Linked DNA regions of Homo sapiens: regions 2, 3, 4 and 5 are each linked to region 1. The links come from fine-mapping of genetic effects on gene expression. A gene starts in region 1. Each other region holds a variant in brackets. All regions are shown on one strand. Distances are from middle to middle.

Region 1 (5,100 bases):
GCTGTTGGGGGCCTGGTGGGCCTGGTCGGCTGGGATGAGTGTCCTCAGAGCAACAGGAAGTCTCTGAAGGGTCTGAGAGGGGAAAGCATGTGCAACAGACATTTCTGAAAGGGCCTTTCTGGCTGTTTCTGCAGAGGAGGGAATGGGCAAGGTTAGAAGACGTAGAGACGGAGCTGATAAAGTAGGGAGAAGTTAACGGGCTCAAGAACCTTCCAGGGTGGAGCCGGGCGTGGTGGCTCACGCCTGTGATCCCAGCACTTTGGGAGGCTGAGGCAGGCTCAGGAGCTCAAGGCCAGCCTGGCCAACATGGCGAAAGTACAAAAAAACTAGCTGGCAGATGCTGCAGGCAGCTGGAGTCTGGAGGGAGACTCGGGGAGAGGGGGGTTCTGCTGACTCTGCAGAGCTTTTCCACGTCAGGTGAGACCAGCCTCACCTTTCTTACAGGTTTTAGGAGTTCAAGAGAGCCCACCAGCCCTGATACAGCATGTCTAGGGTGGGGCTGGTAGGAGGCTGCACCACTAAGTGCCCTGAAGGATGCAAACCTAGACAACGCCTTCTTAGAGAATAAGGGAAGATGGATCATGTCGGGTGTGAGAAAATGGGAAACCACGTGTATCTCGGAACTAACTGATAGGAGCCAGGCGCGGTGACTCACGCCTGTAATACCAGCACTTTGGGAGGCCGAGGCGGGCGGATCACTTGAGGCCAGGAGTTCGAGACCCGCCTGGCCAACATGGCAAAACCCCCGTCTCTACTAAAAATACAAAAATTAGCTAGGCGTGGTGGCGGGTGCCTGTAATCCCAGCTACTCAAGGAGGCTGAAGCAGGAGAATCACTTGAACCCAGGAGGCAGAGGTTGCAGTGAGTTGAAATTGCACCACTGCACTCCAGCCTGGGTGACAGGGCAAGATTTTGTCTCAAATAATAATAATAAAAATAAAAATAAAGAACTGACAGTGACCCTGACTGCCAAGTCCTTCACAAAGCCTCTAGGGTAGTCACATCACCAGTCTCATTTCACAGATGAAGACACTGAGGTGAAACAACCTGCCGGCCAGCGGCCAGGCAGGGCTGCACCACTGGGTGTGCGCTCAAGCCCAACTGAGGGCTGCACATTGTAGTGACATTCTTTCACCCCTGCAGAGACCAGGGCACCAAGCACCACCATCAGACACAAGCTGGCTTTCAAAGCCAGAGACCTTGCTCCAAACCCACCTGTCCACCTGGGCGACTGCAGCTCAGCAGCACTTTTTGGAAAGCACCTACCTGCCTGTGCACCCTCGGAGAGATGTGCCTCAATGCAGGGCCCACAGCCAGCCCCAGCTCCAAGCGCAGGCCAGAACTCCCTCCTCCCAAGACACCCTGCCCCATCTGGGGCTCTCTTTGGGTCCCAAGCTCCTGCAGGCAGACAGGACATTTCTGCAGCATGGCCTTAGGCAGCTGTGCAGGCCCTCAGCTGTGAATGGGTATGCTGATAGCGCACCACCAGGTCACAGAGACATGCCACGCTGGAAGCACTAAGTGAATGATGATAAACCGCGAGACCTGGCGGGAACTCCTGCAGGATCTCCCACGCACCAGTGAGGCTGTCAACTCTCCAGCTCTTCGGAAACTCCAGCATTTCATGCGCAGAGACCCATCCCCATGCGGCTACCCCAGGCCCAGTATGCGCCGGCAGGGCTTCTCACATGTCCTCCAGGAAAGCGCCTGGGACCACCAACGGCCACCAGGGCCACTGGATCCATGCGGCTTGTGCCTGGTGATGTAGATATGACAGTGAGCGCCCGCCGCCATGCAGAATCGGTCCTGGAGACAACCCGGGAACCGACTCCAGGAAAGAGCGGGTCTCAGAAGACCATGCACAGCAACATAAGCTTTTTATAAAGTACCTAACCAAACCCTACAGTGTTGAGGCCCAGGCACAGCTACACAAATGATGAAACCACAAGCGGAAAAAAAGAGGGGAGATTTCCCCAAATAGGGTTGGTGGGGTGGTGCCTGGGGAAGCAAGGGCGACGTCATGGGGGGGCCTGTACACCCCGGGCAGGAGGCGGGCCGGTCACACCGCGGCACGCATGCTCTCCTGGCCCGACTTTTGGGAAAACCGGAAGCAGGGCAAGGCCGTCCCACGAGGCCTGCCACTCCCCTTTCTGGACCTACCCAAGCCCGGTGCTCAGGGCCCTCGCCGCCTGCTCACTGGGACACCTTACCTGGCTCCACTGCCCTTCTGCGTCCTGCGCGAGCCCGGGACACCCCGGGAGGCCGGGCGGCGGGGGACCTCCCCGAGCAGCGTCAGAGCCGCCCGGAGCCGCAGCAGCCGCACCACGCGCATCTGCCAGCCTCCGGGAAAGAGCGACAAGCTGGGCCCCGCCCCAGCGGCCAGCCCCGCCCCGCCCCCAGCGGCCAGCCCCGCCCCCGAGCGCGGCCTCCGCCCCCAGCGGCGCTCATCCCAAGGCTGGGCGGTCTAAGCCTGCACGGGGCTGCGGCAGCAGGACCACTGACTGTCCTGCCGGCCTCCCCCTGGTTTCCCTGCCTTCGTGGTCCAGCGCCCCTTCACGCTGGGCGGGGACCCAGATCCAAACCCAGTCCCACTGACCTCTGCAGCACAGGGCTGGCTGTCAGGATGCCCCACAGGTCACACGACCAGGCCAGTGAACTCCTGCCCAGGGCTTGCACACAGCTCTCTCCCAGAGCCTCTGAGGGCAGGGGCACCTAGCAGGTCCTTCCTAAGTACACGCTCTGCTGCTCTGGAGAAGGGACCACACAGGCTCAGATGGCCCCCTACCTCATCCCCTACAAACAGCAGCACTTCCAGGACGCAGAAACCGGCAGAAGCACCTGCTGTCCAGCCCACAGCAGCCCCTCAGAGGTGGTGCCTCTGGACAAAGGTCACAGGAAGTCCTGCGAAATCATCCCTGCCAACCAGCCTCTCACTCCCAAGGAGACCAGAGACCAGGCACAGCTGGAGCCTCCTTCCTGCGCTCAGTCCCCAGCGTGACTGCTGACCCTGACCAGGGTTTAACCCCAGTGTCTTCACTGGGGAGCATGGCCAAGGGGCAAAACCTCTAGATCAGCACTTGGCGGTAGGCCCTGAGCCACAACAGGCCACACCGCTCACCTCTGGCAGCACCGCAGCCTTGGTCTTCCCCGGTAAAACCCTGACACCAGGACCGTGGGAAGCAGATGAATTCACATGCATTCCGCACTTTCACTGTGACCGTTGGGGGGAATGCAGTGGACACAGGCAGGAAAGGAGTCCGGGCTGCCACCGCACGCCCTCAGCGACCCTCCCCTGCCACCAACTGACTCAGTGTCCATGTCATCTAGCTGCTGGAAGCCATGGGCAGAGGCCGAGGGCTGCAATTGCTCGCTCTTAGGGCCCAGGCAGACCTGGTAGGTGTCCCATCATTTCAGAATGAGCAGCTCAGCAGCTGAAGGTACACACACACCAGGACACAGCAGCTGACTCTCCAGGTGGGCCACCTCCTCCCAGGGGCTGCGGAACAGTGATGCATATTTTTTCAGGTAACCCTTTCTACAAACCAGAAGAGGGCCTTGGCCCAGGCCCACCATTCCTTCAACGGAATCCTGAGGTCAATGTGTTTTCCAGTTCAGGTTTCTAAGGGTTTTTGATTTTTTGTTTTTTACTTTTTGTAGAGATGGGGTCTCCCTATGTTGCCCCGGCTGGTCTCGAACTCCTGGGCTCAAGTACCTTGGCCTCCCAAAGTGCTGGGATTTCAGGTGTGAGCCGATGCCCAGTTGGTTCCTCAGGTTTTGTAAGAGGGAGTGTGGCAGGACAAAAACCCTAAGATTTCTCAATAGATGCAGAAAAAGCAGCAGACAAATCCAGCACCATTTCATGATAAACAGAATGGAAAACCCACTCAAGAACAGAATAGAAAGAAACTTAACCTGAAAAGCAGCATCTACAAAACCCCGCAGCTAACCTCATATGCCAGAAGAAAGACTGGACGCTCCTGCTGAAATGAAGAATAAGACGAGGATGTCCACTCTCACCACTGCCTCTCAACATGGTACCAGAGGCTCTAACTGAGCAAACAGGCAAGCAGATGAAATAAGACACCCAGATCAGAAAGAAAGAAGTAAATTATGTCTATTTGCAGGTGGCATAATCTTGTATATAGAAAATCCCAAAGAATCCACAAAAATTGGCCGAGCACCGTAGCTCATGCCTGTAATCCAAGCACTTTGGGAGGTCAAAGCAAGTGGATCACTTGAGCCAAGGAGTTCAAGACCAGCCTGGGCAACATAGTGAGACCCTATCTCTATGGAAAATAAAATTTAAAAAAGAATCCACAAAAACTAGTAGAGCTAATAGATGAATTCAGCACAATTGTAGGGTACAAGATCAATATGCAAACATCAGTTGTATTTCTAACCAGTAGCCATACGCAAACTGAAAATGAAATTAAGAAAATAATTTATTATAGCATGAAAAAATAAAATACTGCACAATAAATTTAACAAAGGAAGTATCAAGCTTATACTCTGAAAACTGTAAAACATTGCCCAAAGAAATTAAAGACAGCCTAAATAAATGAGCAGCCATCCCATGTTCACGGACTGGATGATTTCATATGGTTAAGACAGCATTGGCCAGGTGCAGTGGCTCACGCCTGTAATCCCAGCACTTTGGGAGGCCGAGACGGGCGGATCACGAGGTCAGATCGAGACCATCCTGGCTAAAACGTCTCTACTAAAAAAATTAGCCTGGCATGATAGCAGGCGCCTGTAGTCCCAGCTATTTGGGAGGCTGAGGCAGGAGAATGGCGTGAACCCAGGAGGCAGAGCTTGCAGTGAGCCGAGATCACGCTACTACACTCCAGCGTGGGCAACAGAGCAAGACTCCGTCTCAAAAAAAAAGACGGCAATACTCCCCAAACTGATCCAAAAACTCAATACAATCCCCATCTAAATTCCAGCTGGCGTTTTTACAGAAATTGACAACCTGATCCTAAAATTCACAGGGAAATACAAGGGACCCAGAATAGCCAAAACAATGTTTGAAAAAGAATAACAAAGTTGGAGGATTCATACTTGCTGATTTCAAAACTTCAAAACTGGCCCAGGGAACACAGC
Region 2 (5,100 bases), 22 kb before region 1:
AGCCCTGTCCCTGTCATTGTCATCAGTCATCCATCACAGCAAAAGACCAGCCGGGATCAAAGGTGGAAGCTCAGCCCCACCCCAGCTGCCAAGTCAGATACAGAGGAGGGCCGTGGGCGGAGGGTGAGCAGCCCGTCAGGACCTGACTCGCAGGAGGGTGAGATGCTCGACACAACAGACTGAGGCCGGCCCAAACAGGATGAGGGCAGCGAGACCAGGCCCGAGAAAGCAAACACAAATGTCCTTTAACCTCCGGGAAGCCGCTAAGCCCTCCTTCCTGCCTCCTTAGGGAAAGCAAATTTCAGCACAGAGATGCCCTTTCCACATTACTTGCACCCTCCAATGCCAGAACATCACCCACACATGCAACCTCTGACCCCAACTCTTCTAGGAATTTGTGCCACAAACACTCGAATGTGCGTGGAAAGACAAACTTGCGCCTGCAAAAATACGGCTGAGAATGGGGCAGCCCGCCGGGCCAGAAGCATAGGTCCGGGGAAGTGCCTTCCCAGCATGAGCCACATCCCCAGGGGCCGAGGGACACATGAGGGGCTGCTATTTATGTGAAAACAAGGAGGGAAAACAGAGGAAGAGCCAGCACGCACACACAGTCCTTCTGGAAATGCTTAAGAAATTTCTCTTGGCTTTTTTTTTTTTTTTTTGAGACGGAGTCTTGCTTTGTCACCCAGGCTGGAGTGCAGTTGCATGATCTCAGCTCACTGGAACCTCTGCCTCCCGGGTTCAAGTGAATCTCCTGCCTCCTGAGTAGCTGGGACTACAGGCATGTGCCACCACGCACATGATTTTTTTTTTTTTTTTTTTTTTTGTATTTTTAGCAGAGACAGGGTTTCACCATGTTGGCCATGATGGTCTCAAACTCCCAACCTCAAGTGATCTGCCTGCCTCGGCTGCCCAGAGTGTTGGGATTACAGGCATGAGCAACCTTGCCTGGCCAGGAAATGCTAAAGAAATTTTACAGCAGCTGCCTCTGGGGACAGGAGGTCAGGGGTGAGTCACAGCCTTATTTTTCACTGAATACCCTTTGTTCCAATTGACATTTCCTTCGCACACGCCACCATTAAAAACAGACCCCTGCATCTCCGGATGCTCATCCTGAAGAGAAAACTTTTACCCTTTAAGAACCACAGCCAGGCCAGGAGCAGTGGCTCACGCCTGTAATCCCAGCACTGTGGGAGGCCGAGGCGGGTGGATCACGAGGTCAGGAGATTGAGACCATCCTGGCTAACATGGTGAAACTCCGTCTCTACTAAAAATACAAAAATTAGCCAGGCATGGTGCCGTGCACCTGTAATCCCAGCTACTCAGGAGGCTGAGGCAGGAAAATAGTTTGAACCCGGGAGGCAGAGGTTGTGGTGAGCTGAGATCATGCCACTGCACTCCAGCCTGGGCAACAGAGTGAGAGACTCTGTGTCAAAAAAAAAAAAAAAAGAACCGCAGCCACAATAATGAGGAATGAATGAAAGAGGGAACATCACTAAAGAAATAAAAAAGATAATATGGGAATACTATGAATAACTGGGCACCAGCCAGTTAGACACCCTAGACTAAACAAATTCCCAGAAAGATACAAACTACCAGAACCAACTCACAAAGTATAGAAAATATGAATAGAACTATAACAAGTGATTATATCAGTAACTTTAAACGTCTCCCAAAGAAAAGCCCAGGCCTAGATGGTTTCACTGGTGAATTCATTTAACAAACTGACCCTAGCCAGGCAGTGCAGTGCAAGCCTATAGTCTCAGCTATTCAGGAGGCTGAGTTCGGAGGACTGCTTGAGCCCAGGAGTTCAAGACCAGCCTGAGCAACACAGCAAGACTCTCTCTTTAAAAAGGCACCAATTTTTCATAAACTTTCATGAAATATTAGATATTATATTAAATATTATTCAACTCGTTACCAGTATTACCTTGATACCAAAATCAATGACATCATAAGAAAACTATAGACTAACATGCTCATGAATACAGATGCAAAAACCTCAACAAAATATCAGCAAACTGAATCCAGCAATAGACAAAAATGATTACACAATTGCTCAAGTAGGATTTATCCCAGGAATGCAAGGATGGTTTCATATCTGATCAATTAGTATAATACATCCTATCAATATAAGGAAGGGACAAAAACAAGATCTCAACAGGTGCAGAAAATCATTTGACAAAATCCAATGCTCTTCATGATAAAAAAAAAAGAACCTCAACAAACTAGGAATAGAAGTAAATTTTGTTAACTTAACAAACAGCTTCTGTGAAAAACCTACAGTTAACATCATATTCCATGATAAAAGCATGAGAGTTTTGCCCCCAGTATCAGGAACAAGGCAAGGCTGCCCACTCATGTCCAGTGTACTGGAGATTCCTGCCAGGTCCATAATGCAAAAATATGAAATAAAAGGCATATGATTGGAAAAGAAAAAGTAAAACTATCTCTGTTTGCATACAATATGGCCTTTATAGATACAGTCCTAAGGGCCAGGCA[T/C]GTTGGCTCATACTTTTAATCTCAGAGCTCTGGGAGGCCAAGGCAGGATTGCTTAAAGCCAGGAGTTCAAGAGTAGCTTGGGCAACATACAAAAATTTTCTTAGTGTAAAAATTAGCCAGTTGTGGCCGTTGGCACCTGTGGTCCCAGCTACTCAGGAGGCTGAGGCGGGAGGATTGCTTGAGCCCAGCAAGTTGAGACTATGGTGAGCTAGGATGCTGAGACATCTGGCTGTCCACATGCAAGAGAATGACCCTGGGCCCTTCCCTCAGACCACACACAAAAATTAACTCAGAACCAATGACCTAAATGTAAGAGTAAACCAATAAACCTCTTAGGAGAAAACAGAGAAATCTATCTTCATGGCCTTGGGTTAGGCAAAGCCTTCTCAGCACGCTGACTCATCCAAATCTTAAATGTGTCACAGGACACCAACAAGAAAGAAGAAAGATGTGGCCGGGCGCAGTTGCTCACACCTGTAATCCCAGCACTTTGGGAGGCCGAGGTGGGTGGATCACCCGAGGTCAGGAGTTCAAGACCAGCCTGACCGACATGGTGAAACCCCATCTGTACTAAAATACAAAAATTAGCCAGGTATAGTGGTGTGTGTCTGTAGTCTCAGCTACTCGGGAGGCTGAGGCAGGAGAATCGCTTGAACCCAGGAGGCAGAGGTTGCAGTAAGCCAAGATCACGCCACTGCACTCTAGCCTGGGTGACAGAGCAAGACTCCATCACCAAAAAAAAAAAAAAAAAATAGGGCTGGGAGTAGTGACTCACACCTGTAATCCCAGCACTTTGGGAGGCCGAGACAGGCAGATTGCCTGAGCTCAGGAGTTCAAGACCAGCCTGGGCAACATGGTGAAACCCCGTCTCTACTAAAATACAAAAAAATTAGCCGGGCATGGTGGCGGGTGCCTGTAATCCCAGCTACTCAGGAGGCTGAGGCAGGAGAATTGCTTGAAACCTGGAGGCAGAGATTGCAGTGAGCCGAGATCATGCCATTGCACTCCAGCCTTGGCGACAGAGCAATGCTCTGTCTCCAAAGGAAAAAAAAAAAAAAGAAAGAACAAAGACAACCCAAGAGTGGGCGAAACATCGACGAGCTCTTACAAGTCAATAATAAAACAACAACCCGACTGGAAAATGGACAGAGGACCTGAGCAGTCATTCTCCAGAGACGATACAGAAGTGGGCAACAAGCACCTGCAAAGAGCACCCACGGCCAGACGCTCCTTCACACCCACTGGGCTCTAATCGACACATGGAAAACTGACCCTACAGTGGCGCCTGGACAGAGGAATCGGAGCCCTCACACACTGCTGGTGGGGAGGGGATGGTGCCGCCGCCCTGGAGAAGAGTCTGGCACCTTCTTCTCATTTCCTGACCCCACAATGACAATCACAAACCTCCTTGGCGGCCAGGGTCTCCTCCTCCCACGGCTCCATGTGTCCCACTCTTGTCCACAAGGCATATAGTTTGTATTTTTAAAAATCACAAAGTTGGCCAGGTGCAGTGGCTCATGCCTGTAATCCCAGCACTTTGAGATGCCAAGGCAGGAGGATCACTTGAGGCCAGGAGTTTGACCAGCCTGGCCAACATGGAGAAACCCCGTTTCTACTAAATAAATAAATGAGCCGGGCGTGGTGGCGCGCACCTGTAACCCCAGCTACTCGGGAGGCTGAGGCAGGAGAATCACTTGAACCCGGGAGGCGGAGGTTGCAGTGAGCTGAGACCGCGCCAGCGCACTCCAGCCTGGCGACAGAGACTCCATCTCAAAAAAAAAAAAAAAAAAATCACAAAATAACAATTGAAGAGGAAAACAAAACTGGCCATGGGAAGGCGCGTCTGAAGCTGCCACATCTGGGTTGGTGTGGGCGGCAGCTACCTAGGTGCTGAGGCAAGAGACTGAGGGCACGAGCTGTTCCAGTATAATAAAATACATAAGAATAGTTATACTATATATAGATCATAGATATGATTATATATGAATATCATTAATCATTAGTTGGTAGCAATTACTCTTTTTTCCAATATTATAATAATCCTCGCTCTACAATCATAGCCTAGGAAAAACCAGGCCATACAGAGATATGAGGGGACATAGTGAGGAGTAACCAGAAGACAAGAGTGCGAGCCTTCTGTTATGCCCAGACAGGGCCACCAGAGGGCTCCTTGGTCTAGCGGTAACGCCAGCGTCTGGGAAGATGCCTATTGCCAGGCCAACCATGGTCTAGCGGTAGCATCAGTGTCAAGGAAAAACACCTGCCACTTAGCAGACCGGGAAAGGGAGTCTCCCTTTCCCCAGGGGAGTTTAGAGAAGACTCTACTCCTCCACCTCTTGTGGAGGGCCTGACATCAGTCAGGCTCGCCCGCAGTTATCCGGAGGCCTAACCGTCTCCCTGTGATGCTGTGCTTCAGTGGTCATGCTCCTAGTCTGCCTTCATGTTCCATCCTGTACACCTGGCTCTGCCTTCTAGATAGCAGTAGAAAATTAGTGAAAGTACTAAAAGTCTCTGATATGCAGAAATAATGGCGTAAACTGTTCTCTCTCTCTCTGCCTCGGCTGCCAAACAGGGAAGGGCCCCGTGTCCAGTGGACAT
Region 3 (5,100 bases), 23 kb after region 1:
AAAGCTATTTACATGATTATCTGACACAAGAAAGCAGGAGAGAAGAGAGCAGAGGGAGAGAAAGGTGAGTGAGGACTGCAGGCCTAATGCCTTTCAACTTTTTTTTGGTTCTAATCTTTGAAAAAGATGTGGTCACACTGGTTGTTAACCACAGTAACAATCTGACAAGATGATTTATCTAAAACAAAAACAAACAGAAAGGGCCCCTGGCACATGAGGGAGATGCCAGACCCCCTTGTTACATCTGGGCCCCCGACACGAATGTGCAAGAGCCGGACCTCTGCACCTGTCAGAGGCGGCTCGCATTACGAACCTGCTCCACAGTCCTGTGGATTCCTAACTCCGCTCAAGCGGAAACAAAGACTGGAAAAAGAACACGAGGCAGGTCCCAATTCCACTGCAAAGGCCAGGCTCTCAGGACGAAAGCTGATCTCACCCTGTGCCCTCGCTCCCCCCATTCCCTCACTGCCCCATTTCACCTCACTCTTAGAAGAGGGATAAAGGGAACAAACCTTACCCAACAGTAAGATTGTCCCGCCCTGGATTTTCTTTTGAAACGGAGAATTTATTTTCTTCCCTCAAGCACTGCTATAAGTCACAAGAGAACAGGGTTACGTTGAGGACATTTCCATGTCATAATAAACAGAACTTCTGTGAAAACACTAGGATGAACCCCACCACAGCATCCTGCATGTGGCCAGCGGGCAGACAGACACAACTCTGAGAATGGGGCCGGCCAGGCCCAGGCCACTCACTCCCCGGCCCACGGCTGCTTGCCATTACAGTTCAACCAAAGCCTGGCAGCAGCCGTCAAAGGATTCCAGGTAACCAGTAACCAACCCTCCCAGGATGGACAAGCGTGCAGTCCCCACACCTAACTCCAGCTCCTTCTACACCCTACACACGACCCAGGCAGCATGCTGGCAGCAGATCCAACCCTTCTGAAATTTGACATAAATGCACCTTGTGTGAACACAAAGTACATATTTTTAAATTTATCTAAGTAAATGATCAAAAAAGCTTTTTATACTTGTAAAATACTCATTTCAAAAAGGTTCATCCAGGTGCAGTGGCTCACGCCTGTAATCCCAGCACTACGGGAGGCTGAGGCGGGCGGATCACAAGGTCAGGAGTTTGAGACCAGCCTGGCCAACATAGTGAAACCCCGTCTCTACTAAAAATACTAAAATTAGCCAGTCATGGTGGTATGCACCTGTAGTCCCAGCTACTCAGGAGGCTGAGGCAGGAGAATAGATTGAACCCAGGAGGCAGAAGTTGTGGTGAGCTGAGATCGCGCCACTGAACTCCAGCCTGGGCAACAGAGTGAGACTCTGTCTCAAAAAAAAAAAAAAAAAAAAAAAAAAGACCACATGCAGTGGCTCACGCCTGTAATCCCAGCACTTTGGGAGGCCGAGGAGGGTGGATCACAAGGTCAGGAGATCAAGACCATCCTGGCTAACACAGTGAAACTCCATCTCTACTAAAAAATAGAAAAAATTAGATGGGTGTGGTGGCGGGCGCCTTTAGTCCTAGCTACTCGGGAGGCTGAGGCAGGAGAATGGTATGAACCCGAGAGGCAGAGCTTGCAGTGAGCCAAGATAGTGCCACTGCACTCCAGCCTGGGCGACAGAGTGAGACTCCATCTCAAAAAAAAAAAAAAAAAGCTTCATGAGGCTGAGCACAGTGGCTTACACTTGTAATCCCAGTACTTTGGGAGGCTGAGGCAGGAGGATCTCTTGAGCCTAGGCGTTCTAGACTAGGCTGGGCAACATAGGGAGATAGGGAGATCCCATCTCTACAAAAATTAAAAAGAAGAATTAGCCAGCACAATAGTGCACACCAGTAGTCCAGCTACTCAGGAGGCTGAGGTGGGAGGATCACTTGGGCCCAAGAGGTTGAGGCTGCAGTTAGCTATGATCACCACTGCACTCCTGGGCGACAGAGTGAGACCTTGTCTCAAAAAAAAAAAAAAAAGTTCGAGAGTAAAAACAAAAATTAAGAATACAACATATTGAACATGTTGAAGATTGTGAGTTTAAAAATGAAACATTAAGGCCAGGTGTGGTGATTCACATCTGTAATCCCAGCACTTTGGGAGGCTGAGGCAGGGACTGCTTGGGGCAAGGAGTCCAAGATCAGTCAGAGCAACATAGTCAGGCCTTGTTTCTACAAAAATAAAAATAAAAACATTAGGCCAAGTGCGGTGGCTCACGCCTGTAATCCCAGCACTTTAGGAGGCTGAAGCAGGCGGATCACCTGAGGTCAGGAGTTCTAGACCAGCCTGGCCAACATGGTGAAATCACGTATCTACTAAAAATACAAAATTAGCTGGGTGTGGTGGCACACGACTGTAGTCTCAGCTACTCAGGAGGCTGAGGCAGGAGAATCGCTAGAAACTGGGAGGCAGAGGTTGCAGTGAGCCAAGATTGCACCATTGCACTCCAGCCTGGGTGACAGGAGCGAAACTCCGTCTCAAAAAAAAAAAAAAAAATTAGCTGGGCATGGTAGCACACGCCTGTGGTCCCAGCTACTGGAGAGGCTGAGGCGGAGGATCACTTGGGCCCAAGGGTTTGAGGTTATAGTAAACTATGATCACCACTGCACTCCCACCTGGGTGACACAGCAAGACTCTGTCTCTACACAAAAGTAATAATATAAATAAATAAAAATGAAACATTCACAGTAAATAAAAGGCTGGAACCTGGTCTTCGCCCTGTCTTCCCTGATTTTTATGCTTTGGCTTCTTCACTTTGAGCTTCTTTGCATTTTCCAGCCTTATCTGCCCAGTACTCTCTCTCTTCCTTTAATCAAAGAAATACGCTCCTGTAACTCCAAAGAAGAAACGGCAACACCAGTGCCAAAATGATGTTTTTGACAGGAAGAAACATAAACTTCACAGGAAAGCAGTGACATCACGCCCCTCCCATTCCTCCCCTGTTCTGATCCTGGGCTGTGGTTCAGACAGGACCTACAGCCCAGACAGCTCCTTCCACCCCA[T/C]TCTCTACCATTGTAGTGATGAGGTTAGACCCGAATGTTACAAGAGCTGGGCAAGCAGGTGAAGCACCCCCAGCAACAAAATCCATCATCATAAACATGCAAAGGCCACTGCTTCCCAAAAGTATTTGCTACCTCTTGAGAGCAACTTTATCATCCACTGGCAACTGCTTCAAATTGGGCCCCGACTGTCTCCCATCACCTATCTGCAACTGAGTGTCCCCACCTGCAAGAAAACACACACATCTCCAGGGCCCTGGGGTGAGCAGCAGGACCGTTCCACAGAGGTGAGCCTGGACCCAGGCAGCAGGGACACTGCTGCACCTGCGGCTGGAGTGACACCGAAAACACAGCAGCAGCTGAGAGGGCAGGAGAGGCAACCGGCCACGAGCCTCTGTTGGCTCCAACCACCAAAGGATGGTGCTTATTCCTGACCCCATTACTACGCAACCAGGCTCACTAGAAAGTTTCCATTAGCCGGTCTGGAGCATATTCCTGGGTGTGATATGCCATCATGTTCATGTTTTTTAAATCACTATTAAGTAAAGCGTTTTTTTTGTTTTCTGTTTTTTGGTTTTTTTTTTAGAGACAGGGTCTCACTATGTTGCCCAGGCTGGTCTCAAACCCTGAGCTCAAACGATCCTCCTGCCTCAGTCTCCCAAAGCGCTGGGATTATAGGTGTGAGCCACCGCACCGGCCCTTAAGTAGACTATTTTGAATGCTGCATAGAGACTCCCCTGAAAATAGCCTGTTCTTGGGTTTTAGCTGGGAGCTTATGGCTTTAGATGCGCCAGACCAAAAGAAAAAAAAACAGCTGCAAACCTGAGGTGTTACAAGGTGGCTGCCAGCAAAGCGATCCAGGAGAAGGGAGGCAGGTCACCACGCCAGGAGAAGAGAAGGGCAGGGAAAAGGCCAACTCCGGGAAGAAAGGCCCTGGGGCAAAGCGCATCCAAAGCCGTCACTCTGGGGCAGAAGACAGAGCGGAATCCCATCAGCGACGGCCGTTTCCAGACCCTTTTCCTAGGCAGCCAGACCGGCACCGCTGGCCAGGTGCAGGGCCCAAGCAGAAAGTCAGGAGCCAAGGGAGCGATGAGGAGGGGTGGGGCAGCCAGGGGAGAGGACACCGAGCGGGAGGGGTAAGCGAAGGGGGAAGAGAACAAGGGGGCCTGGAGGGGGGACACAAAAGGAGGGCCCATGGAGATGGAGGAAACACTGAGGGGTGAAGCACACGGAGGGGGGACACAGAGGAGGAGGGGACACGTTGGTGGCGTCGTGCGCGGAGGGGGAGGTACACGGAGGAGTCGCGGAGAGGCGAGGGATGTGGGAGGTCGTCACCAACAGCGCGACCTGGGTCACCCACAGGAAGAGGGCCACTGAGGGCCCCGCCTGACCCCTCCCTCCTGGTGGCCCTGCGCCCTCAGGCCGAGTCCCACCTCCTCTGCAGCTCTTCCAGGACCCACGCGGTCCCACCGCACCACGGCTCCCCCGGACCCCGCTTCCCCGAGGCCTGCGCGGAGACGCCGGGAAGGCCCGAGCCCGCGCATGCGCAGCCGCCGCCACGTGCCTGCCTTGACGCCGCCGGTGCTGCCGGGAAGGGGGCGGGCTGCGCAGGCGCGGGAGAGGCCCACGCGGTGGCCACGCGGGGCGTCCGGTGGCTGCGCTCGGTTGGGCCCCTGGGCTCGCGCGCTCCGTGGGCCGCGGTGCTGACGGGCACCCAGGAGGTGGGGTGGGAGGCGGCCGGCCGGGGTGGAGGGGCGTTCCTGGGCCGACGTGCTGTTGGCTTCCGCGACGTGGTGGAGTCTCGCCAGTCCCTGCAGCGCTTCTGCGACTCTGAAGATAAAGAGGATCGTATTTTGAGAAAAGCTCATGGAGCAAGGAGCTCAAGGAGCAAGGCCTGAGGTGCAAGCTGTCACCGGGTCGCATCTGCTTAGCAGCCTGCACATTGCTAGCGAGAGTCTCCACTCAGCCTGAACATAGTGCTTGGGAGGAGGAGGGCCGCCAGGCCACACCCGTGGGGTGCAGGATGCGCCATGTCGGGGTCCGTGAGTCTGGGGTGACGTGAGATCCCAGAGGCTGAGTCTGGAAAATTGAGCGGATGTGGCCGCG
Region 4 (5,100 bases), 37 kb after region 1:
TTTGGCTTCAGGTCACTGGGCTGGTGATGCTGACCGTAGCCCTCAAGGACGCCCTTCTTGCCCACCCCGAGGCGTGCCAGAGGCTGCAGCACCTCCTGGGCACTGGAGGGAAAGAGGCAGCCTGTGCCTGCCCCCTATGAACTTGCTCTGTCAGGGCGGCCATGCCTGCAGGTGGCCTGGGACGGCACATGTTGTTTTGGGTGGAATGTTTGGGAGGCTGTACAAACAAGATGTCCCAGAGGGCTCCGGAGGTGACGCTTTTCAGGCTGGGGGCTGTGCCTGGGCTCCCTGTCCTGGCCCTCCCTGGGCTGCCACCTTGGAAAGTTGGGGAGAAGCTGTTTCCAGGCTGCCGTGTCTCTCACAGCGTCCAGAAATGACCCCACAGTCAGGGTACTGGGGAGGGGCCCGTGGGAGGTGGCAGTGGGGCGGAGGCAGGCCCTGTGTCACACGCGCACCACTCAGGCTGTCCTGCCATCTGGAAAGTCTTCCCCGATGCCTGCTGCCGGGCTAGAGTGAGGCCTGTTCCACCCCCATCAGGCTGGCCCCCAAACTGGCCCTAAAGCTCAGAGTTCAGTGGGTCAGGGGTCGGTCGTTCATCCACTTAGAGGCCACACCTGGGCCTGAGGCCCTGTGGACAGGTCTGGGTGACTTGTATTTGCCCCAGGCGTGATGAGAGCAGGCTTCCAGCAAGCGCTTACCTGGTGCCAGGGCCAGTGCTACAGCTGGAGTCCTGCCATTGGTGCCTCCCAAGCCCTGGGCCTCAGCCCGTCTGATGAACAGGGTGAGTAAGTGGCCAAGGCTGCCAAGCTGGGAAGGGGAGAAGCCTGGCACGGCCCAGGGTGGCCAACCCAGCTGCCGTCCCTCCCGCAGGGGCTGCAGGGGCTCCCGGGGGAGGACCACAAGGAATACAGCCTGGCTGTATGCAGAAGGTTCTGTGGTTTCCTGGGGAGGCCAGTGGGAGAAGGGGGAGCAGGCTGCAGAGGGAGAGCGTTGGAGCAGCAGGTGGGCAGGGTGGCTGTGCCCCCCTCACCTGGTCTCCAGCATGCCGAGTGGGTCAGCCTGAGGTTCCCCAGCCTGGCTGGACAGGAGCACCCTCTGGGTGCTGGTTACAGGTTCCCAGGCCCCTGCCCAGGTAGATTGGGCTCCAGGAAGAGGGGTGCTCAGGAAGCACCAGTGCCTGGGTACCCCAGGGAGCATCAGAGAGAGTGGGAGTCCCTGCCGTGAGTGGCCAGTCTATGATTCCTCTGGCGTGCGTGCTGCTTATAGCCCTGTGTCCCAGGAGACACCTGTGCAGCAATGCCCTTTGAATTCTGTTCCCTCATCAGTGGGGGGCAGAGATGGTGGGTCAGGTGGGTGCTGGGCTTCCACCCTCCTGGGGCTTCCAGTTCTTGCATTCAGGTGAGACTTCAGTGGGGGCAGAGGAGAGGGGTACCTGAGATGGGTGGCTGTCAGCATACAGGGTGCCCAGGGCCAGGGCTCTGAAGGGAAAAAGCTGGTTTGCTCCAGGTGGGTGACCTCTCCCTGGGGACTGCCTGGCCCAGGGCCAGGGGATCCTGGGGGAGAGTGGAGGTCTGGCCCTGCTCTGATGTTTTGCTGTTCCCAGACCTGGGCTGGGATAACTATCTCTGCCTTTTGCCCGTCCCCAGGTCAGCCCCACTCTGGCCAGGGCCACACTGTTTCCTCCTGGGCAGAGGAGCCCCAGTGTCAGGGTTGGGGGGCTGTTTCTCTGTTCTTCGTCCCTCTCCATCGAGGCATGGCCAGGCCCTTCATGTGTGGCTGCCTCTCGGGACCCCCACAGACCACAGCCTCTCTGTCCTTTCCTAATGCAAGGCGGAAATGGCCACAGTGGGGTGTCAGGGCACCGTGGACGTGGGGGTGGGGAGCTCCAGGTCACCTTTGTCTCCAGAGGGTGGGGAGGTTGTAGCAGGAGTAGGGGCCTGAACGCCTGTGTCTATGCCCCTTCCACTGGGCTCAACCTTCAACCCAGTGTGGAAAGTGGGGCATGGGCCGCCCACCTCCAAGGTCTACCCAGCCTCAAAGGTCCGGCTCGGGTCTGCTCCTCCGCCTGTAGGCCGGGAAGTCACTTGGCCTGCAGGGAGCACTGCGGGTAGGGAGGCCGAGGAATGGACCAGGCCCACAGCAGGTGCCTGTGGGGCTCCAAGGGGCCAGGCTCCCCGCAGCTCTCCTGGGGCCAGGAGGGGAGCAGGGACCTGGCTGGGTGTCTGATGCCCGTCGCACAGCCAGAGCCCTTAAAGCTGCTGGAGCCTTGCAGCGGGGCCTTTGCGGGGAGGGGGTGTAGCTGCGGTGGGTGGCACGGGGGTCTCCTAGGTACTGGGCAGAGGCCCTCGAGGTGGTAGCGCCGGTGGGAAAGGTAGGGATGGGAGGCGGGGGTGGGCGGGCCTCAGGTTCAGGGAGCTTCTCAGATCTGAGGCGCCCATGCCCCTCTCCCACCTGTGGGCCTCTCCAGCCCGAGTCCCTGAAGCAGCTCTGGAGGGAATTTCTTTTCTGGAGGAGGCGGGAGTGAGAAACGGGAGCAGGGTGAGGGTTCCCAAGTGCACATCGGCCCGTCCGCTGCTGGGTGGTGTCCACGGGGGCAGGGCTGGGCTGGGGGAGGCCAGGGTCCTGGGCCGGCACACCCTCCTTCCGGCTGCCTGTGTCCCTCCCTCCAGCTGCCTGTGTCCATCC[C/T]TCCGGCCGCCTGTGTCCCTCCCTCCGGCCCCTAAGCGCCAACTCATCTTCAGTTCAGGGACCTCCGTCAGGCTCCCTCACCCCAGCACTCAGCAGGAGGCTGCCGGCCTGGGTGTCCAGGGGATGGTGCGGGTGTCCAGCAGACAGTACAGGGGTTTGGGGGATGGTACAGGTGTCTGGGGGATGGCGTGGGTGTCCAGCAGATGGCGCAGGGGTTTGGGGGATGGCACAGGTGTCTGGGGGACAATGCGGGGGTTTGGGGGATGGCGTGGGTTCCAGGGGATGGTGCAGGGGCTTGGGGGATGGTGTGGGTTCCAGGGGACGGTGTGGGGGTTTGGGGATGGCGCGGGTTCCAGGGGACGGTGTGGGGGTTTGGGGATGGCGCGGGTTCCAGGGGATGGTGTGGGGGTTTGGGGATGGCGTGGGTTCCAGGGGACGGTGCGGGGGTTTGGGGATGGCGTGGGTTCCAGGGGACGGTGCGGGGGCTTGGGGGATGGTGTGGGTTCCAGGGGACGGTGTGGGGGTTTGGGGATGGCGTGGGTTCCAGGGGATGGTGCAGGGGCTTGGGGGATGGCGTGGGTTCCAGGGGATGGTGCGGGGGCTTGGGGGATGGTGTGGGTTCCAGGGGACGGTGTGGGGGTTTGGGGATGGCGCGGGTTCCAGGGGATGGTGTGGGGGTTTGGGGATGGCGTGGGTTCCAGGGGACGGTGTGGGGGTTTGGGGATGGCGCGGGTTCCAGGGGACGGGGCGGGGGCTTGGGGGATGGTGTGGGTTCCAGGGGACGGTGTGGGGGTTTGGGGATGGCGTGGGTTCCAGGGGACGGTGTGGGGGTTTGGGGATGGCGCGGGTTCCAGGGGACGGTGTGGGGGTTTGGGGATGGCGCGGGTTCCAGGGGACGGGGCGGGGGCTTGGGGGATGGTGTGGGTTCCAGGGGACGGGGCGGGGATTTGGGGGATGGCGTGGGTTCCAGGGGACGGTGTGGGGGTTTGGGGATGGCGCGGGTTCCAGGGGACGGGGCGGGGATTTGGGGGATGGTGTGGGTTCCAGGGGACGGTGTGGGGGTTTGGGGATGGCGCGGGTTCCAGGGGACGGGGCGGGGATTTGGGGGATGGCGTGGGTTCCAGGGGACGGTGCCTCATCCTCCAGTCTCTGTCTCTGCCTTCCCATGGCCACCTCCATGTGACTGTGTTCAAATTCCCCACCTCGTATAAGGACCCTTGTCACTGCGATTAAGGACCCCCTACTCCAGGGTGGCCTCATCTTAACTCATTATATCTGCAAAGACCCTATTTCTAGAAAAATTGCAGTCACAGGTACTGGGAGTCAGGACTTGAACCTGTCTTTTGTGGGGACACAATTCACCCATAATAGATGGTCACCCGCTCAGCTGGCTGCTGTGATTTTGGGGGGCTGGACGAGCAGGCCTTCTGTCTAGGAAATCAAACCTTTCTTGTATAATGGGAATAAACTAATTAAAATGCACACAAAGATCTCGTTCACATTAGCAAAAAGAACTCTCTCCAGATATCTAGGAGAAAACCCAGGAAAACACGTGTGAGCTCTTTACGGGGAAGACGGGAAGGCCTGAGAGACGTGTGTGCGTGGAGAGGGTGTCGGGTCCACAGAGGGGAAGACCCAGTGCGTGTGCACGTTGGCCCCATGAATCCGCAGCTTCATGCAGTGGTAGGTCAGTTTCATGGTGGCAAGATTCACCTTCAGACGCCACAAGGTCCTGGGGAAGAAGAGGTCCTGTCTCCCGACAAGGGCGGGAAGCAGTCCCAGGAGCCACCAGAGGCCTTGTCTTGCTGCTGACTGGCAGAAATGGCCAGGTTGGCCACGCCTGACTCAGACCAGGCTCGCCCCAGGGCTGGGTGGGAGTCAGTGTCCCTGAGCAGTGAGCCCTGAGCAGCACTGTGGGTCTCAAAGCATGGAAGGAGTGGGTGCTGGAGAGGCAAGCCAGCCAGCCCACGCCTGGGAGCCCACCCAGGGGACAGCCACAGGTAGCTGCAAATAATCTTGTCCGGGTGGAGACCCAGGCATTCCCACATGGCCACGGGGAAGAGTGGGGGTTGGGAGGCCATGGTGAGAGGGAGGGACACGTGAGGATCATGTGGGCAGGACCCCAACACCACAAGGGTGGGGTGGGCTGAGGCATGAAACTGGATCTCCCTAGAGTGAAATGTAAGCTCCAGCACGCTGGCACCACTGACGACACAGGAGCCATCAAAGTCCAGAAGGGGCCCCGCTGGGCACGCCCCACTCTTTCGCCATGGCTGGTGCTGGGCAGGGCCGCGGGGCTGCAGTCTGGGTGCAAGGCTCAGAGTCATTTCTCTGTGGATAGGGAGGGCACGGGTGTGCGTTCGCTTCGAGAACCATTCCCAAAGTCAGACCGCAGCCTCTGCACCAACCATCGGG
Region 5 (5,100 bases), 47 kb before region 1:
AGGCGGAAAGCTATGGTCCCCGCCCGGAGGAGCCATGCAGTTCCCCGCAGCGTGGGTGGAGGAGGAGGGACAGGTGTCCCAGTCCTTGAGTCTCAGGTGGGCAAAATCATGCCACTACTGTGGCACTCGTGTGCCTGACTCCAGGCAGGGCCTTCCCGTCCTGCCGCCCTGCACTCTGTGCATGGCCATTCTGTGAGGCTGCTGCTCCTCAAGCAGCCCGTGGGATGGGAAATCCCCTCGTTTACACGGTAGACCATCCAGCCCAGCGCCTGCTGCAGAGCCTGGGTGAACAGCGTCTGGGTGACGAGAGTAACAGGCAGGATGCAAGTGGGAGCAGGCGGCTTCCCAGGACCTCGGTCCATGTGCCCATCCAGCAGGACCCTGAGCCCAGCTCCCATCTGGGGAGAGGGCTCCACGGGGGCAGGCAAGAGGGGCTGCATGCTGAGCTCCTGAAAGCTCTAGAATGCCCTCTGTAGCCATTACACTCGACGGAGGGCATGGCGAATAGCAAGGGCTTGGGGCATGTGGTTGGGTTTTAGGTTTTTCCTTGCAGGACTGTGCTGAGCCTGCACCACTGGGAAGCCCTTGGCCTCTGCCCTTTCTCTGAAACGCTCCTCTTCTGCCTGGATGCCTTGGTCATTCTTTCCTCATCCATAACCTTGAATAGCTTCACCAAGATCCGTGCTGGTGTCAATATTTTATATTAAGTTTTCCTGGGATATGGTGTTCTTGATTTTTTTGAATTAGGGTATAATTTACATAGCGAAAATGCCCAAATTTTAAGCACTCGGCTTGACTGTTTACATGTTTACACTCTTGCTAATCCCCCCAGGTCACAGCATGGAACTTTCCAGAGCTTCTCCTCCCTTTCCCTTCCCCTCCCCCAGCTGATGGGTATTCTAGCTTCTGGAGGGCCCTGTCTGCCATCGGGCCTCTCAGGAATGGATTCGTCTGCCCGCCCTCCTGGCACTCCTTTTGCTCCACACGATGTGCTAGAGGTCACTCCGGGTGGTTCTGTGTGTCTGTTGGCCCCGTCCGCGCCGGCGTGTGGTTTCCCATTCTGAGTGTTTGCTCTGACCCCATTTTTATTGCTGGGGTTGTGTGCTTCTCAAGCCCTTTTCCAATCCCAAACCTGTGGTGTCTTTTCTGAGTTAGAACACCCTAGTGGCTACAAGGACCCCAGAGTAGGAAGCCCAGCATCCGTGCGACAAGGCTGGGTTCCCTGAGAGCCAAGCGGCCTCCCCACCTCAGCGCCCTCCCCAAACTCCTGCCCACACTTCAGGACCCGCTGGCAGTGCTGCTTGAGTCACTGCTCCCTGCTCTCTGCTTCTAATGAGGCCTCCACGCGCTGCTTTCTGGCACCTGGCAGGCGGTGCCTGCTGTGCCTGTGTTTCTCCCTTCTCTTTCGCGAGCTCCCAGGGCAGCCCCCGTGGTGCTCTGTCCACCTTCGGGGGTGTCCCTGGTGCCCAGCGCAGCAGGAGTGAATGTCCTGAGCCTGAGCCAGTTCTCCTTGACTGCACAGCACCAAGGTGCCAGTCAGTGCTGGTCAGGCTGGCCGCTAGGTCTTGGTGCACCCGCCACTTCCTACCACCCTTGCATTTTCTCCTCTTAGGGCCACTGGTGTGTCTCACCTGGAACCTGCTCACCAAAAACCCGTCTGTTACTTCACAGATCCTGCCACGCGGGAGCCCGGCACAGCTTGGCTGAGGTCTCTGCCAGGGTCTCCTGGAGCTGCCATTAAGCTGTCCTGGTCTCCGAACTCCTGTGGAGCTTGAGGTCCTTCCCTGACCATTCGGGCCGTGGCAGGATTTCCATCCTGCGGCTGTGGGGGTCAGGCCCTCGGCTTCCAGGGGTAACTCAGAGGTCTCTGCCTCCCCTGCTCCTTCTGCCAGGAGACTGGGAGTCCTTCCTTTCTGTGTCACCTGTTTCCTGGCTGCGTGTCCACTTGCTTCAGTTGACCCACGGCCTCTTCTTTGAACAACAGTCCTCTTTCTCTGAGGTCTTTTTTTGTTTGTTTGTTTTTGTTTTGTTTGGTTTGATTGGTTTGTTTTGAGACAGAGTCTTGAAGGGGTGGGTTGCCCCTCCACACCTGTGGGTGTTTCTCGTTAGGTGGAACGAGAGACTTGGAAAAGAAAAAGACACAAAGTATAGAGAAAGTAATAAGGGGACCCAGGGAACCAGCGTTCAGCATATGGAGGATCCTGCCAGCCTCTGAGTTCCCTTAGTATTTATTGATCATTCGTGGGTGTTTCTCCGAGAGGGGGATGTGTCAGGGTCACAAGACAATAGTGGGGAGAGGGTCAGCAGACAAACACGTGAACAAAGGTCTTTGCATCATAGACAAGGTAAAGAATCAAGTGCTGTGCTTTTAGATATGCATACACATAAACATCTCAATGCTTTACAAAGCAGTATTGCTGCCCGCATGTCCCACCTCCAGCCCTAAGGCGGTTTTTCCCTATCTCAGTAGATGGAACGTACAATCGGGTTTTATACCGAGACATTCCATTGCCCAGGGACGGGCAGGAGACAGATGCCTTCCTCTTGTCTCAACTGCAAGAGGCATTCCTTCCTCTTTTACTAATCCTCCTCAGCACAGACCCTTTACGGGTGTCAGGCTGGGGGACGGTCAGGTCTTTCCCTTCCCACGAGGCCATATTTCAGACTGTCACATGGGGAGAAACCCTGGACAATACCTGGTTTTCCTAGGCAGAGGACCCGGCGGCCTTCCGCAGTATTTGTGTCCCTGGGTACTTGAGGTTAGGGAGTGGTGATGACTCTTAAGGAGCATGCTGCCTTCAAGCATCTGTTTAACAAAGCACATCCTGCACAGCCCTTAATCCATTTCACCCTGAGTTGACACAGCACATGTTTCAGAGAGCACGGGGTTGGGGGTAAGGTCATAGATTAACAGAATCTCAAGGCAGAAGAATTTTTCTTAGTACAGAACAAAATGGTGTCTCCTATGTCTACTTCTTTCTACACAGACACAGTAACAATCTGATCTCTCTTGCTTTTCCCCACAGGTCTCACTCTGTCACCCAAGCTGGAGTGCAATGGCGTGATCTCAGCTCAC[T/C]GCAATCTCCACCTCCCGGGCTCAAGTGATTCTCCTGCCTCAGCCTCCCGAGTACCTGGGATTACAGGCGAACACCACCACTCCCGGCTAATTTTTGTAGTTTTAGTAGAGATGGAATTTCACCGTGTTGGCCAGGCTGGTCTCAAACCCCTGACCTCAGGTGATCCACCCGCCTCGGCCTCCCAACGTGCTGGGATGACAGGAGTGAGCCACTGCGCCAGGCCCAGCTGTCTTTGTTTTTCAGGGGTGCCTTTGGTAATTTCTTCATCGTACTTTTTTTTTTCAGGGTAGCAGGTAAGAGACTCAGTGGATAGGCTCATGGAAACAGTCCTTGAAGGGGTGGTATTCTAAGACTCAGCTACTTTTTTTTTTTTTTTTTTTTTTTTTTTTTTTTTGAGACGGAGTCTCACTGTGGAGTGCAGTGGCGAAATCTTACTGCAACCTCCGCCTCCTGGATTCAAGCAATTCTCCTGCCCCAGCCTCCCGAGTAGCTGGGACTAAGGCAAGCACCAACATGCCTGGCTAATTTTTTGTAATTTTTTTTTTGGTGGAGATGGGGTTTCACTATGTTGGCCAGGCTGGTCTCGAACTCCTGACCTCGAGTGATCCTCCTGTCTTGGCCTCCCAGAGTGCTGGGATTACAGGCGTGAGCCACCTCTCCGGCCTGGACTCGGCTACTTTTGGATCAAGAAATCCAGAATTTTCTAGACTGTGAACTTGCCCTTTATCATGGACATTTACCACCTGCAACTGCCCAGAGGTTCTCTGTCTCACCCTACACCGTGAGGACCCCCTTAGCAAACAGAATTCCAGGGCGCGGGCTCTTCGCAGGATCTGAGCTATTCGCGGGCGTCCTGAGTTGCTTGGATTCACTCCCCCACCCCCATGTCCCTGGAGTCCTGCCTTGTGTTTTCGATTCTGTTTCTCAGGGGCCCCAGCGTGTGGCCTCCCATTGTGGGAGAGCAGGAGGGAAGCGGTGAGGGGTGATTTCGGAGGAGGCAGAGCCCCGGGTGTCCGTGGGAAGCTCCAAAGCCGGGCCGCGGGACGGCTACCCTGGGCTGTGACGCAGTCCAGGATCTTCGCCAAGGCACCTGCTGGAGGCCCCTCCTGGGTCCCACGACCCCGACTGCGCCTGCCGGCTGCCAGCGAGGAGGCGGGGCCAAGGCGAGGGCGGGGCCGAGGCAGGAGGGGCGGGGTCGGCCTGATGGGCGGGGCTTCCGTGTGGGCGGGGCTGCTGGCCCTGCGGTCTGAGCCAGCGGGGAGAGGCCCGGGCGGAGGAGGCTGCGGACTCCTAGAGGTTCAGTGCCGGAAGTTGGGCCTGGAAAGGGGGCACCGCCTTCCCGGTTCTGGTGGCGGGGAGTGAGGGGACGGGCGAAAGCGGCACAGGGAACAGCATGACACGGGCCTGAGGCAGGGCACATTTGGAAAGGGGCGAGGAGAGGGCAGTGGCTTCTGGCACGGCAGCAGTGGGCATACAGAGGCAGTCGGGACCCGTCTGGAAGAGCCTCCGCCCGGGGTAAGGAGCCGGGACTGTGTCTAGGAGGCAGTGGGGAGCTCCGGAGAGCGAAGCGCCTCCTGCGCAGACTCGCGTGCTTGGAGTACCGGAGCCTGCAGGGCAAGAGAGGGTCTTCAGAAGACCCACGACGTTCCACTGGGATGCAGAGGGAAACGGTTACTTGTACTTCTACATCATCTCTTTTAGATGTGTGTGTGTGTGGTGTGTGTTGTTGTTGTTGTTTTTGTTTTGCGACAGAATCTCTGTCACCCAGGCTGGAGTGCAGTGCCAATCTCGGCTCACTGCAGCCTCCGCCTCCCGAGCTCAAGTGGTCCCCCCGCCTCAGCCTCCCGAGTAGCTGGTACCACAGGCGCCGGCCACCACGCCCGGCTAATTTTTAAAAAAAATTTTTAGTCGACACGGTTCTAACTATGTTGCTCAGGCTGGTCTGAAACTCCTGGACTCAAACAATCCTCCTGCCTTGGCCTCCCAAAGTGCTGGGATTACATTCATGAGCCTCTCGCCCACC

Evidence for each region.
Region 2: its variant is fine-mapped to the expression of TOP1MT in whole blood (TOPMed, PIP above 0.99).
Region 3: its variant is fine-mapped to the expression of TOP1MT in whole blood (TOPMed, PIP 0.95).
Region 4: its variant is fine-mapped to the expression of TOP1MT in whole blood (TOPMed, PIP 0.96).
Region 5: its variant is fine-mapped to the expression of TOP1MT in hypothalamus (GTEx, PIP 0.97).

The regions. Positions count from the first base shown.
Region 1 is chr8:143,332,530-143,337,629 of GRCh38, forward strand. It overlaps TOP1MT (DNA topoisomerase I mitochondrial), which reads right to left and starts at 2,351. Exons shown (of 14, transcript NM_052963.3): 1 at 2,211-2,351. The coding sequence starts at 2,332. RefSeq lists enhancers at 1,575-2,259, 1,799-1,848 and a silencer at 2,049-2,508.
Region 2 is chr8:143,310,315-143,315,414 of GRCh38, forward strand. The region is part of intron 12 of TOP1MT (DNA topoisomerase I mitochondrial); the gene reads right to left. Among named protein-coding and RNA genes, the nearest start is that of ZNF696, 21 kb to the left of the region's middle. The variant T/C (reference allele first, on the strand shown) is at 2,503.
Region 3 is chr8:143,355,448-143,360,547 of GRCh38, forward strand. It overlaps a transcript of TOP1MT not described here. Among named protein-coding and RNA genes, the nearest start is that of RHPN1-AS1, 11 kb to the right of the region's middle. The variant T/C (reference allele first, on the strand shown) is at 2,998.
Region 4 is chr8:143,369,926-143,375,025 of GRCh38, forward strand. All of the region lies in intron 1 of RHPN1 (rhophilin Rho GTPase binding protein 1), which reads left to right. Among named protein-coding and RNA genes, the nearest start is that of RHPN1, 3.6 kb to the left of the region's middle. RefSeq lists enhancers at 1-112, 113-1,019. The variant C/T (reference allele first, on the strand shown) is at 2,686.
Region 5 is chr8:143,285,227-143,290,326 of GRCh38, forward strand. No RefSeq gene overlaps it. Among named protein-coding and RNA genes, the nearest start is that of ZNF696, 3.6 kb to the right of the region's middle. The variant T/C (reference allele first, on the strand shown) is at 3,077.